2 separate regions of the Homo sapiens genome follow, and region 1 is reported to be linked to region 2. The links are microRNA targets in miRTarBase. Many come from high-throughput screens and were not tested one by one. Region 2 holds a microRNA gene; the other region holds the end of a gene's coding sequence. Distances are between the middles of the regions.

The links. The annotated mature microRNA hsa-miR-1976 reads CCUCCUGCCCUCCUUGCUGU and lies in region 2 at 1,893-1,912, opposite strand. An mRNA with a match to its seed (bases 2 to 7 or 8) in the 3' UTR can be bound and repressed. Matches are read on the target gene's strand: a 7mer-m8 pairs with bases 2 to 8, a 7mer-A1 pairs with bases 2 to 7 and ends in A, and an 8mer does both.
Region 1: the mRNA of SLC25A33 is a reported target of hsa-miR-1976. Seed matches in the 3' UTR shown: 8mer at 1,271-1,278, 7mer-A1 at 1,930-1,936 and 8mer at 2,049-2,056.

The regions. Positions count from the first base shown.
Region 1 is chr1:9,581,851-9,587,221 of GRCh38, forward strand. It overlaps SLC25A33 (solute carrier family 25 member 33), which reads left to right. Exons shown (of 7, transcript NM_032315.3): 7 at 449-3,323. The coding sequence ends at 651. Among named protein-coding and RNA genes, the nearest start is that of TMEM201, 4.4 kb to the right of the region's middle.
Region 2 is chr1:26,551,116-26,556,485 of GRCh38, reverse strand. MIR1976 (microRNA 1976) reads right to left here and starts at 1,944; the gene lies at 1,893-1,944. It overlaps RPS6KA1 (ribosomal protein S6 kinase A1), which reads right to left. Exons shown (of 22, transcript NM_002953.4): 5 at 5,009-5,089; 6 at 4,763-4,842; 7 at 2,989-3,095; 8 at 2,235-2,272; 9 at 1,748-1,890; 10 at 1,265-1,335; 11 at 861-949.

The sequences.
Region 1 (5,371 bases), 17 Mb from region 2:
TATGTGACTTTCCTGTCCAAATACAGCTGAGGTGGGAAATAGACACAGTTGTAACCTTGACAATTTTATTTTATTTATTTATTTTTTGAGACAGAGTCTTGCTTGCTCCGTGGCCCAGGCTGGAGTGTAGTGGCACGATCCCGACTCATTGCGACCTTCACCTCCCAGGTTCAAGCGATCCTCATTCCTCAGCCACTCTAGTAGTAGGCGTGCACCACCTTGCCTGGCTAATTTTTGTTTTTCAGTAGAGACGGGGTTTCACCATGTTGGCCAGGCTGGTCTCCAACTCCTGGCCTCAAGTGATCCACCCGCCTCGGCCTCCCAAAGTTCTGGGATTACAGGTGTGAGCCACCGCACCCGGCCTAACCTTGACAGTTTTAAAGTTGTGTGCTGTGGATTCGTTCCCCATTTAATATGTGGCGTAAAGTAGGTCTTTCTCTCTCTGCAGAAGTCATAAGGACGAGGCTCCGGGAAGAGGGCACCAAGTACAAGTCTTTTGTCCAGACGGCGCGCCTGGTGTTCCGGGAAGAAGGCTACCTTGCCTTTTATAGAGGACTGTTTGCCCAGCTTATCCGGCAGATCCCAAATACTGCCATTGTGTTGTCTACTTATGAGTTAATTGTGTACCTGTTAGAAGACCGTACTCAGTAACAGGCCGGAAAATTGTGCTCTAGAAGAATAAAACTGAAAAACTCTAGAGAATTTTTTTTCCCCATTGATGTTTAGAAAGTTTGAGACTGAAACAGGAAAGGCCATAAAATATCTGGTTCATATCACCTGTTGGACATTTCCTTTTGGATTCATGCTTTCTGGAAGGTTTAAATTCATTAACGTTAATAGTTAATTATAACTTTTTTTTTAACTTAAGAGGATTCAGGGTTAAGCACCAACTAAATTAAATCATGCTATTTAATTTAAGTATACATTTGGCTTGTGTCCTCTTTTATGCTCACTATACTATGAAGGACTTAAGTAATTCAGATAAACCTGCCCTAGAACTGCAGAGAAAAATGATAAAGTGAGAATACAACTTGTTTTATAATCTGACTTTAAGATCTTGCACTGCTAGACAGGGAAGAAGTGTCGCATTTTGGCTGGGCACTGTGGCTCACGCCCGTAATCCCAGCACTTTGGGAGGCCGAGGCAGATGGATCACGTGAAGTCAGGAGTTCCAGACCAGCCTGGCCAACATGGCGAAACCCTGTCTCTACTAAAAATACAAAAATTAGCCGGACGTGTGCCTGTAATCCCAGCTACTTGGGAGGCTGAGGCAGGAGAATCACTTGAAACCCAGGGGGCAGAGGTTGCAGCGAGCTGAGATCACGTCACTTCACTCCAGCCTGGTCGACAGAGTGAGACTCCATCTCAAAAAAAAAAAAATTGTGTCACATTTTGGTGGTGGTGTGTGGACCAGGACAAACTTCCCAGCAATTTTTCTTCTTTGTACATTTCCAATTACTTGCAGATTGATCATCTAAGCGTTCAGACTGCTGAGATGAATATATATAACTTTCTGAGACTCAATATTTTAAGCTATAAAAAACTTCCTGAAGTTATCCTTTTCTCCCTACTTTGAACCAAAGGCAAGAATTTTTAAAGAACTGTTTTATCAATGGCCTGGCTCCTGGATATAGTTCCGGAAGTTAAGACCAGTTGCCTTGTTAAGTGTGTTGACAGCACAGCTACCCTGTTTGGCTGTGAATCCAGAATGTGATGAAGAACAGTCATTCCCACTGAGGTCTTTAGCCCTGTTCTTGGACCTCTGCTCTTGCAGAAAAGGAGCACAACGTAGGACTATGGCTCACCCGTCAGAGAGCTCACATTCTGATAGAAAGCACTGGGATTGTTTAAATATCCTAGTTCAACATTAAAAAAAAAAAAAATTTAATCCCAGCACTTTGGGAGGCCAAGGCGGGCAGATCACGAGGTCAGGAGATCGAGACCATCCTGGCTAACACGGTGAAACCCCGTCTCTACTAAAAAAATACAAAAAAATTGGCCATGCGTGGTGGCGGGCACCCATAGTCCCAGCTACTCGGGAGGCTGAGGCAGGAGAATGGCGTGAACCTGGGAGGCGGAGCTTGCAGTGAGCTGAGATGGCGCCACTGCACTCCAGCCTGGGCCACAGAGTGCGACTCCATCTCAAAAAAAAAAAAAAAACCAGGATGTTACCCCCTTGGTTTTAAAGCAAATTTAATAAGGGAACAAAAAGATGATACTAAGAAGAAGGCAAGTAAAACCCCTAGTCTTCCATTAGCTCTTTCACTGGAATTTGAGTATATTGTACATGAAGGTTGGTTTTCAATTTGAACGTCTAGAAAGATACTCATTTCTAATACCTATGCACTGTAGTTTCAGGTTTACTTGCAGACACCCTGGTAGGGTTAAGAGGAGGATATTTCCAAGTTATTTTAAATTGAGTTTACTTTTAACTGGGGTTCTTGACTCTAGTGTAATTGCTCCAACAACTACGTAGAAGTCAAAATGAGTGACTTTAGTGAAGCTTCTGTACTTTACAATACATGACAGTAATGCTATTCCAGAAGTTTTGTTTTGTTTTGTTTTGAGATGGAGTCTCGCTCTGTCTCTCCCAGGCTGGAGTGCAGTGGCACAATCTCGGCTCACTACAGCCTCCACCTCCCGGTTTCAAGCAATTCTCCTGTCTTAGCCTCCTGAGTAGCTGGGACTACAGGCATGCGCCACCACACCTGGCTAATTTTGTATTTTTAGTAGAGATGGGGTTTCACCATGTTGGCCAGGCTGGTCTCAAACTCTTGACCTCAGGTGATCTACCCGCCTCGGCCTCCCAAAGTACTGGGATTACAGGAGGGAGCCACCATACCTGGCCCGCGCCGCCCCTTCCTTTGTTGTTATTGTTGTTTTGAGACAAGGTATCACTCGATCACTGAAGCTGGATACAGTGGCAAGATCATAGCTCACTGTAACCTCAAACTCCTGGGCACAAGGGATCCTCGCATCTCAGCCTCCCAAGTAGCTTGGACCACAGGAAAGTACCACCATGCCCAGCTAATGTTTTTTCATTTTTTGTGCAGACGAGGTTTTGCTATGTTGTCCAGGCTGGTCTCAGACTACTGGCCAGAAGCGATCTTACCTCCTCAGCCTCCCAAAGCACTGGAATTACAGAGTAACATCTAATTTTAATATTCACATTCCTATTTTAATATTCATATTCGATGATGGCACTTAGCAACATCCTCCTATATCCATATTAAAACCTGTTTTCCAAGATTGTGTCTAATATGAAGGTGTAAAATTGCTTTGTTTTCACTCCTTCTTGAATGAATAAATTTGATAGTAACCAATTATAATTTTAGTTTTCTGCTTCTCCTGCCCCAGGGCATGGAAATGCAAGCTGCTTAGGCACCCAAAGTAGGAAAGAAGTGATGGTTCCTCTGTAAAGGGCTCATTAGCTTTAAAAATGGGAAATACCTGTGGTTTTTCTCTTAATTTTTGTGGGTATATAGGAGGTATATATATTTATGGGGTACATGAGATGTTTTGATACAGGCGTGCAACGTGAAATAAGCACATCATGAAGAATGGGGTATCCATCCCTTCAAGCGTGTATCCATTGAGTTGCAAACAATCCAGTTACACTCTTGTTATTCTGAAATGCACAGTTAATGTTGGGGTTGGGTGGTTCACGCTTGTAATCCCAGCACTTTGGGAGGGTGAGGCAGGTGGAGGATCACTTGCGCTCAGGAGTTCGAGACCAGCCTGGCAACATGGTGAAACCCTGTCTTTATTTAAAAAAAAAAAAAAAAGCTGGGTGCGGTGGTGTGCACTTGTGGTCTCAGCTACTCCAGAGGCTGAGGCAGGAGAATGAAGGACTTGAGCCCAGGAGGCGGAGGTTGCCGTGAGCTGAGATGGCACCATTGCAGTCCAGCTTGGGTGACAGGAGTGACCCTGTCTCAAAAGTACGATTAAATTATTATTGACTGTAGTCATCCTGTTGTGCTTTTTTCTTTCTCTTTTTTTAATATAAAGATTTTTTAAATTAAAACAATTTTTTTTTGAGACGGAGTCTCGCTCTGTGGCCCAGGCTGAAGTGCAATGGCATGATCTCGGCTCACTGCAACCTCCACCTCCTGGGTTCAAGCGATTCTCCTGCCTCAGCCTCCCAAGTATCTGGAATTACAGGTGCCCGCCACCACGCCTGGCTAATTTTTGTATTTTTAGTAGAGACAGGGTTTCACCATATTGGCCAGGCTGGTCTCAAACTCCTGATCTCAAGTTATCTGCCTGCCTTGGCCTCCCAAAGTGCTGGGATTACAGGCATTAGCCACCTTGCGGTAGCTCACACCTGTAATCCCAGCACTTTGGGAGGCTGAGGAAGGAGAATTGCTTGAGGCCAGGAGTTCAAGGCCAGCCTGGGCAACATAGGGAGACCTTCTCTTTACAAAAAAATTAGCTGAGCATGCACCTGTAGTCCCAGCTACTTGGGAGGCTGAGGTGGGAGGATCCCTTGAGGCCAGGAGGTTGAGGCTGCAGTGAGCCATGGGATTGTGCCACTCTACTCCAATCTGGACGACAGAGCAAGAGGGGCATCTGAGCCTGTGGAATGGTCTGACTTCAAAGTCAAGATCTGACAAACCATTTCATTCCTTTTACTTAAGAATTACAGATCCATGGATGATACTGCTGATAAAGGTGTGCTTAAACTAATGCACGTAATAGAATTGGCCACATAAAGAGTCCTTTGGGTGGGACATGCAAACTGAATCTTCCTTGGGAAGCAAATGGCACTTAAACACAATGCCTGCCTGCTGTTTTGAGGGAAGATACACCTTAAATGATTATTTTGTTTGCTCATGGCTGGTGAAAGCATCAAGACTGCATGGAAAGGCTTTTGCTGGGATACTCACAAGAAAGAGGAGGTCCAGACCCAAGTGAACCTCCAGGTTTCCTGTCTGCTTCACTTTCCAGTCCCCCTTCCCCCCAGTGAATGTGCATGATTCCGGTGTGGACAGAGGAACTGGCTGCAGGAGCAAAAAAACATTTGCCCTCAATCCATCACTACCCACAAAGAGTTTACAATGTTAACCTCAAAAAAAAAAAAGTGATCAGAACACTGGAACATAGTGTGTAATTAGATACAAATATTTTCTGTTTACTTTTTTAAAACTAGTAATTTAGCTGAAATCAATAATGAAACACAGTGACTCTTCCCCTTGAATCTCCTCCCACCACCAGGTAATCAGTTTGCAGTTCAGTGTTAACTATTCTCCACTTCCCACAAGCACATAAGGCTTTATTTAAGCTTTGGATATTATTTAAAAATCAATCTGCATGTTGCTTTTTCTTTTTCTTTTTCTTTTTTTTTTTTTTTTTGAGATGGAGTCTCACTCTG
Region 2 (5,370 bases):
ACTCAGCATTTTCCACTTTCTGGAGCTTCTGATGAAGAAATTCCAATGTACCAGTGGGAGGAGGAAGGCCCAGAGACTTTAGGCAACTTCTCCAAGGCCACACAGTTAGAACAGAAGCTGAGCTTGTTCTGAGACCTACAGAGAGCCCCACCTCATTCCAAGGCAAGCCTCATCTCTGTTCCTCTTATCCCATTGACCTTTTCAACCATAGGACAGGCTGTTACTCCATTCGACCCCAGGGGCCTTGACTGGACCTTACACAGCTGGTCATGGACCAGATGAACCCAGGAGCCAGGGAAGCCAGCACACACTGGACACCTACTACATGCCGGCATGTTCACACAACCTCATTTCATCAACAGAGCCCTGAAGCAAGCTTGGGATCATCATCTCCCATTGAGACGAGGAACCTGCGGTGCAGAGAGGTGAAGTCACCTGCCTGGGGTCACTTAGTTCATAAGTGGCCTCATTCGTTTAACAAATATTTATAGAGGGACTGTTTTGTGCCAGGCAGTGGGGACCTGACACAGAGCCGGGATTGGGACCTATGCCTTCTGACTCCTGAGCTCATGCTATTTCTCTTGTGCCAGCAGCCTTGGCGGAGAAGCTGTGTGGGGGCCTCTGTCCTTGTCCCCAGAGGGAGTAGGGATGACTCAGTTCCTGCCTTCCCCCTACACACAGGTCAACTCCCCCCTCCACAACACCACACATGGAGCCAGAAAGCAGGGTGGCCCGCGGCATTGTCTGCCCACACAAAGGACAACGGCCCCTTTCAGCCCAGATGTGGCCCTGTGGCCTAGGCTGCAGCTGTACCCGGCTCCCCATCGCCACATCCCCTCCCCTGAGCTGGGGCTGCTTACCGAGCCGGTTGGCAGGATTCCGCTTGAACAGGGCCCGCAAGAGGCTCTGGGCTTCAGTGCTCAGAAACTGGGGCATGCCTAGCTTCGCCCTGAAACAGCCCCCGGGACTCATCAAGGCTGAGCCCTGCCCCAGAGGCCCCATCTCCCCCGGCCCCTGTCCAGATCTAGTTCCCAGCTCAGTCTAGACAAGCCATCCACTAATTCACTTCCCAAAGGCTTCAGGGATCCTACCCACAGGCCCCCAGGGATGAAAGAGGGGCTCTGGAAGGTATAATGTTTAACCCAGAGGAGAGTCTCATTAGAGAGGGTAGCTGAGGCAGGGACAGGGTAATAATATTCTGACCCCCAAACTGGGGCTGGGGCTTGGAGGAGTCCATTGTTATCAGGGCAGGGCTGGGGCTTACTTCAGAATCAGTGTCATGGTCTCCTTCCGGTCCTTCCCCTGGAAGGGCAGGGAGCCCGTCAGCATCTCAAACTGCAGAGGACAAGGATCTATTCAGGCTCTGATCCCTGTCTCCGACACACCTCCCGCCTCCTCCCAGTCAGACCCCTCTGCCCCAGTCCCAGGATTCTTGCTGATACATCCAAGTCAGCCTGGAGCAAGAATTATGCCCGTCCCTCTTGCCTCTGCCAACCAGACCACCAGGAGCAGCGGTGGGGGCGCGAGGCTGGGGAGAAGGCCAGCACTGGGTTAGGCGCGTCCCAGGTGGGGTCAAGCCTGGGATCCTTCCAAGGAAGAAAACTGCAGGTGCATATAGGGTGAGGCCAGCTTGGCTGTGAGAGGAGACGGGGAGAGCCCTAGAAATGATCAACCCCCTCACTGTACAGATAGGGAGACTGAGGCCAGAGGCTTGGGCTGGATCCTTTACCCCTGTCTGGGCACTCACCATCAACACCCCATAGGACCACCAGTCCGCACTATGGGAGTGGCCCTGGCGGTTGACGACCTCAGGGGCCATGTACTCCACTGTCCCGCAGAAAGAATAGGCCTTCTTCTCGTGGTCAATGGCCTCTTTGCTCAGGCCAAAGTCTACAGCAAGGAGGGCAGGAGGACACACCTTAGGACCCCTGCCTTCCTTGCTGCCACCCTTTGCACACCCAACCCCCGTGCCCAGAGGCCAGAAGGCATCACCCCCATGACACTCAGGAGGAAGCTAAGGCCCAGAGAGGTCAGGTGACTTGCTCAACGTTACACAATGAGGGGCTGGGATTCCAGCTGAGGGTGTTCCAAGTCTGAGGCCTGAGTTTTTGACCACTTCCAAGTAACTGGCACGGCTTCTCGGGAAGAATGAGCCCCCAGCACTCAGCCGAGACCTATCATGACCTTGTCCTGTCCTCCCCTGGGTCCCGAGGGGGCAGGCGCCCTCCACTCACCAGTGAGTTTGATGTGGCCCTCCTCATCCAGAAGGATGCTGTAATAGAGAAATAGTGGTCAGGGCCCCTCAGCTGTGGCCGTGTGGGTGATGGTGTTACCACAGGGCTGTGGGAGTTGGGTTCAGCCCAGAGGAGGTGCTCCACCCAATTCTCTCTGATGACTGGGCGGGTGTTGCAGGGTGGTAGCAGTACCACGCAGGGGTGTTGCCTATCTTTTTTGCTAATCCTTGAAGCAACTGTGTGAGGCAAGTACTATTAGGGCCCCGTTTTGCTAATGGGAAAACTAAGGCTCAGGGCAGTTAAGTAGCTCTACAGTCATTGAGCTAGTAAGTCTAGCTAGTAGGTGGAGACAGGATTTGAATACAGGGCTGCCTAACACTAAAGCCAGATCTTATTCCAACTCACCACCTGCCCCTGGCTCCTTAGTTATCATTTGAGGGTAGTTAGATATTAGGGAAAATTCTATAGGGCTTTATCAAGGAAAGACCTCTAAAGGTGGCATCTCAAATGTCACACTAGATTAGCAAAAAAAGACGGGCAACATTACCTGCATGCAAAGTACCTGGCCCTTGGTAATGGTAGCATTAGTGACTGGGCAGCTGGCACTACCACCCACCCCACTCACCCATCCCTCAGATTGCCCAAGAGAGGGAGACGTTTCTGGAGAAAGCCATGCCCACCCACCTCAGGATGGCCCTGTCCTAGAAGAGGCCTCCCCTGGGGAGGCTGGGGTGGGGCTGGAGGCTTCACTCACTTCTCAGGCTTGAGGTCTCTGTAAATGATACCCAGGCTGTGCAGGTGATCCAGGCCCAGAGCCAGCTCAGCCAGGTAAAACTTCACATCCTCCTCCGTGAACATCACCTGCAAAAGACAGGAGGGGCCTTCAGCAGGGACCTCCTCTTCCTTAAGAGCTGGGGCACTGGGCAGTCAGCAGCTTCCTGGTCCTGAAGAGCCACCCTGGGAGGACCCTTGGAAACCCCAGGCCATATAGCCTTCTCATCATACAAAGGATTTGAAGTATGAAATGACTAATACGCAAGCCACTCATTGTGGCACCATTCAGAAATAGAAGGGGTGGGAAACAGGCCTAGGGTCCAAGAGTAGAAGGCTGGAATCAGCCCTCTCCCCTGCATAATGGAGTGCTTTGCAGCCATGAACTGGAACAAGGAGTTTCTCCGTGTTCTGACATGGAGTGAGCTCCAAGATATACTATCTTGAAAAAAGCAAGGTACAGAACAGTGTATACAGAATAGTACTTTTTACATAAGGAAATGGGGGTAGGAATGAACATATATCGGATTTGTTTGCAAAAGAAACATGGGAAAGTTAAACAAGAAACCAATAAAAATGTTTACCTATAGATGGGAATAGAGGGGGCTGGGGTGGGAGGAAGACTTCTTCATGAATATTTTTCTTTTGAATCATGTATATTACCTATTCAAACATTAAAATCACAATTTAAGCCGGGCACGGTGGCTCACACCTATAATCCCAGCCAGCAGTTTGGGAGGCTGAGGCAGGCGGATCACCCGAGGTCAGGAGTTCGAGACCAGCCTGGCCAACATGGAGAAACCCTGTCTCTACCAAAAATACAAAAATTAACCAGGCGTGGTGGCGTGCACCTGTCATCCCAGCTACTCGGGAGGCTGAGGCAGGAGAATTGCTTGAACCCGGGAGGCGGAGGTTGCAGTGAGCTGAGACCCCACCAGTGCACTCCAGCCTGGGTGACAAGAGCAAAACTCCATCTGAAAAAAAAAAAAAAATTACAATTAAAAAAAAAAAAAGCTAGATTCTCTTTAAAGTTTGAATTGTACGAATGGTCCCATTTTCTAGCTCAAATCCTTTTTTTTTTTTTTTTTTTTTTTGAGACAGAGTCTCGCTCTGTTGCCAAGCTGGAGTGCAGTGGCGCGATCTTGGCTCACTGCAACCTCTGCCTCCTGGGTTCAAGCGATTCTTGTGCCTCCGCTTCCTGAGTAGCTGGGATTACAGGCACACTCCACCATACCCAGCTAATTTTTGTATTTTTAGTAGAGACGGGGTTTCACCATGTTGGGCAGGATGGTCTTGATCTCCTGACCTCCTGATCTGCCCACCTCGGCCTCCCAAAGTGCTGGGATAACAGGCGTGAGCCGCTGCGCCCAGCCTCAAATCCTTTTATATTGGTTCAAAATCCTTTTGGATGACATACGCAAGATGACTGCTAAAGTCTCTGGCTCTCTGGGTGACTTTGGGCTTCTCCCCTATCTTCACACCTCTGCCCAGAGCAGCCCTGGAAGAAGGCAGGTGCAGAGGTGAGAGGAACCCTTAGCTCCCTGGAGTTTCCTTGGGAGAAACTCTCAGAGACCTTGCCAGCGTATGGCCTCCATTCCAGGGTGCGTGGTATTTCCTGGGCCAGGGGCTGCTAGGCAGGCCTGGGTGGTTCCAGGTTCAAGCCATACCAAACACATTCTGTACAGGGCCCTGGGATGGGAGGACTTGTCGTCCCTCAGCTCCATCCCGGGGCCCTCTGGCAGTAGATGTCAGCTCACCTCTTTTGAGAGCCGGGTGAAGAGGTCCCCACCACGCAGGAAGTCCAGAATGAGATAGAGCTTGCCCTCGGTCTGGAAGGCTGGGAAGAGGGAGAAAGGCAATGGTAGAGTCGGCGCGGCCTTATGATCTGCTTCTCCGGCCCTGGCTCCCTTGGCCTGCCAGGCAGGCGGTGGGACAGTGTACAGACCACAGGCAAGGGCGAAGGATGGGTGGGGTAGGAGCTCAGGCAGGGCCAGAAGCTTTACCATAGTGCAGCTTCACCACGAATGGGTGATTTACATCAGCCAGGATGTCTCTCTCCATCTTGGTCCGGACGCGGTCACGTACTGGCCAGACGAGAAAGGAAGTCACCAGTAGCCTAGACACTCAACACAGCCACTCCCAAGCCCCCGCTAAGGGATCTCTTTTCCACTTGTTCCTCCAGGCCTGAGCTCCCAAAGCCCCCTCACCCAGGGCTTTGGGGACACTCAATCCTCAGGTTTCCTCCTTGCCAGTCTGTTTCTGGCTCCTTGGCTGGCTCCTTGTCCCCACCCCTCACAGCAGTGCCCACAGCTGGGGCCTTGGCACCCTGCCCATCTCTCTGGTCCCTTTTCCCACCAGACCCCAT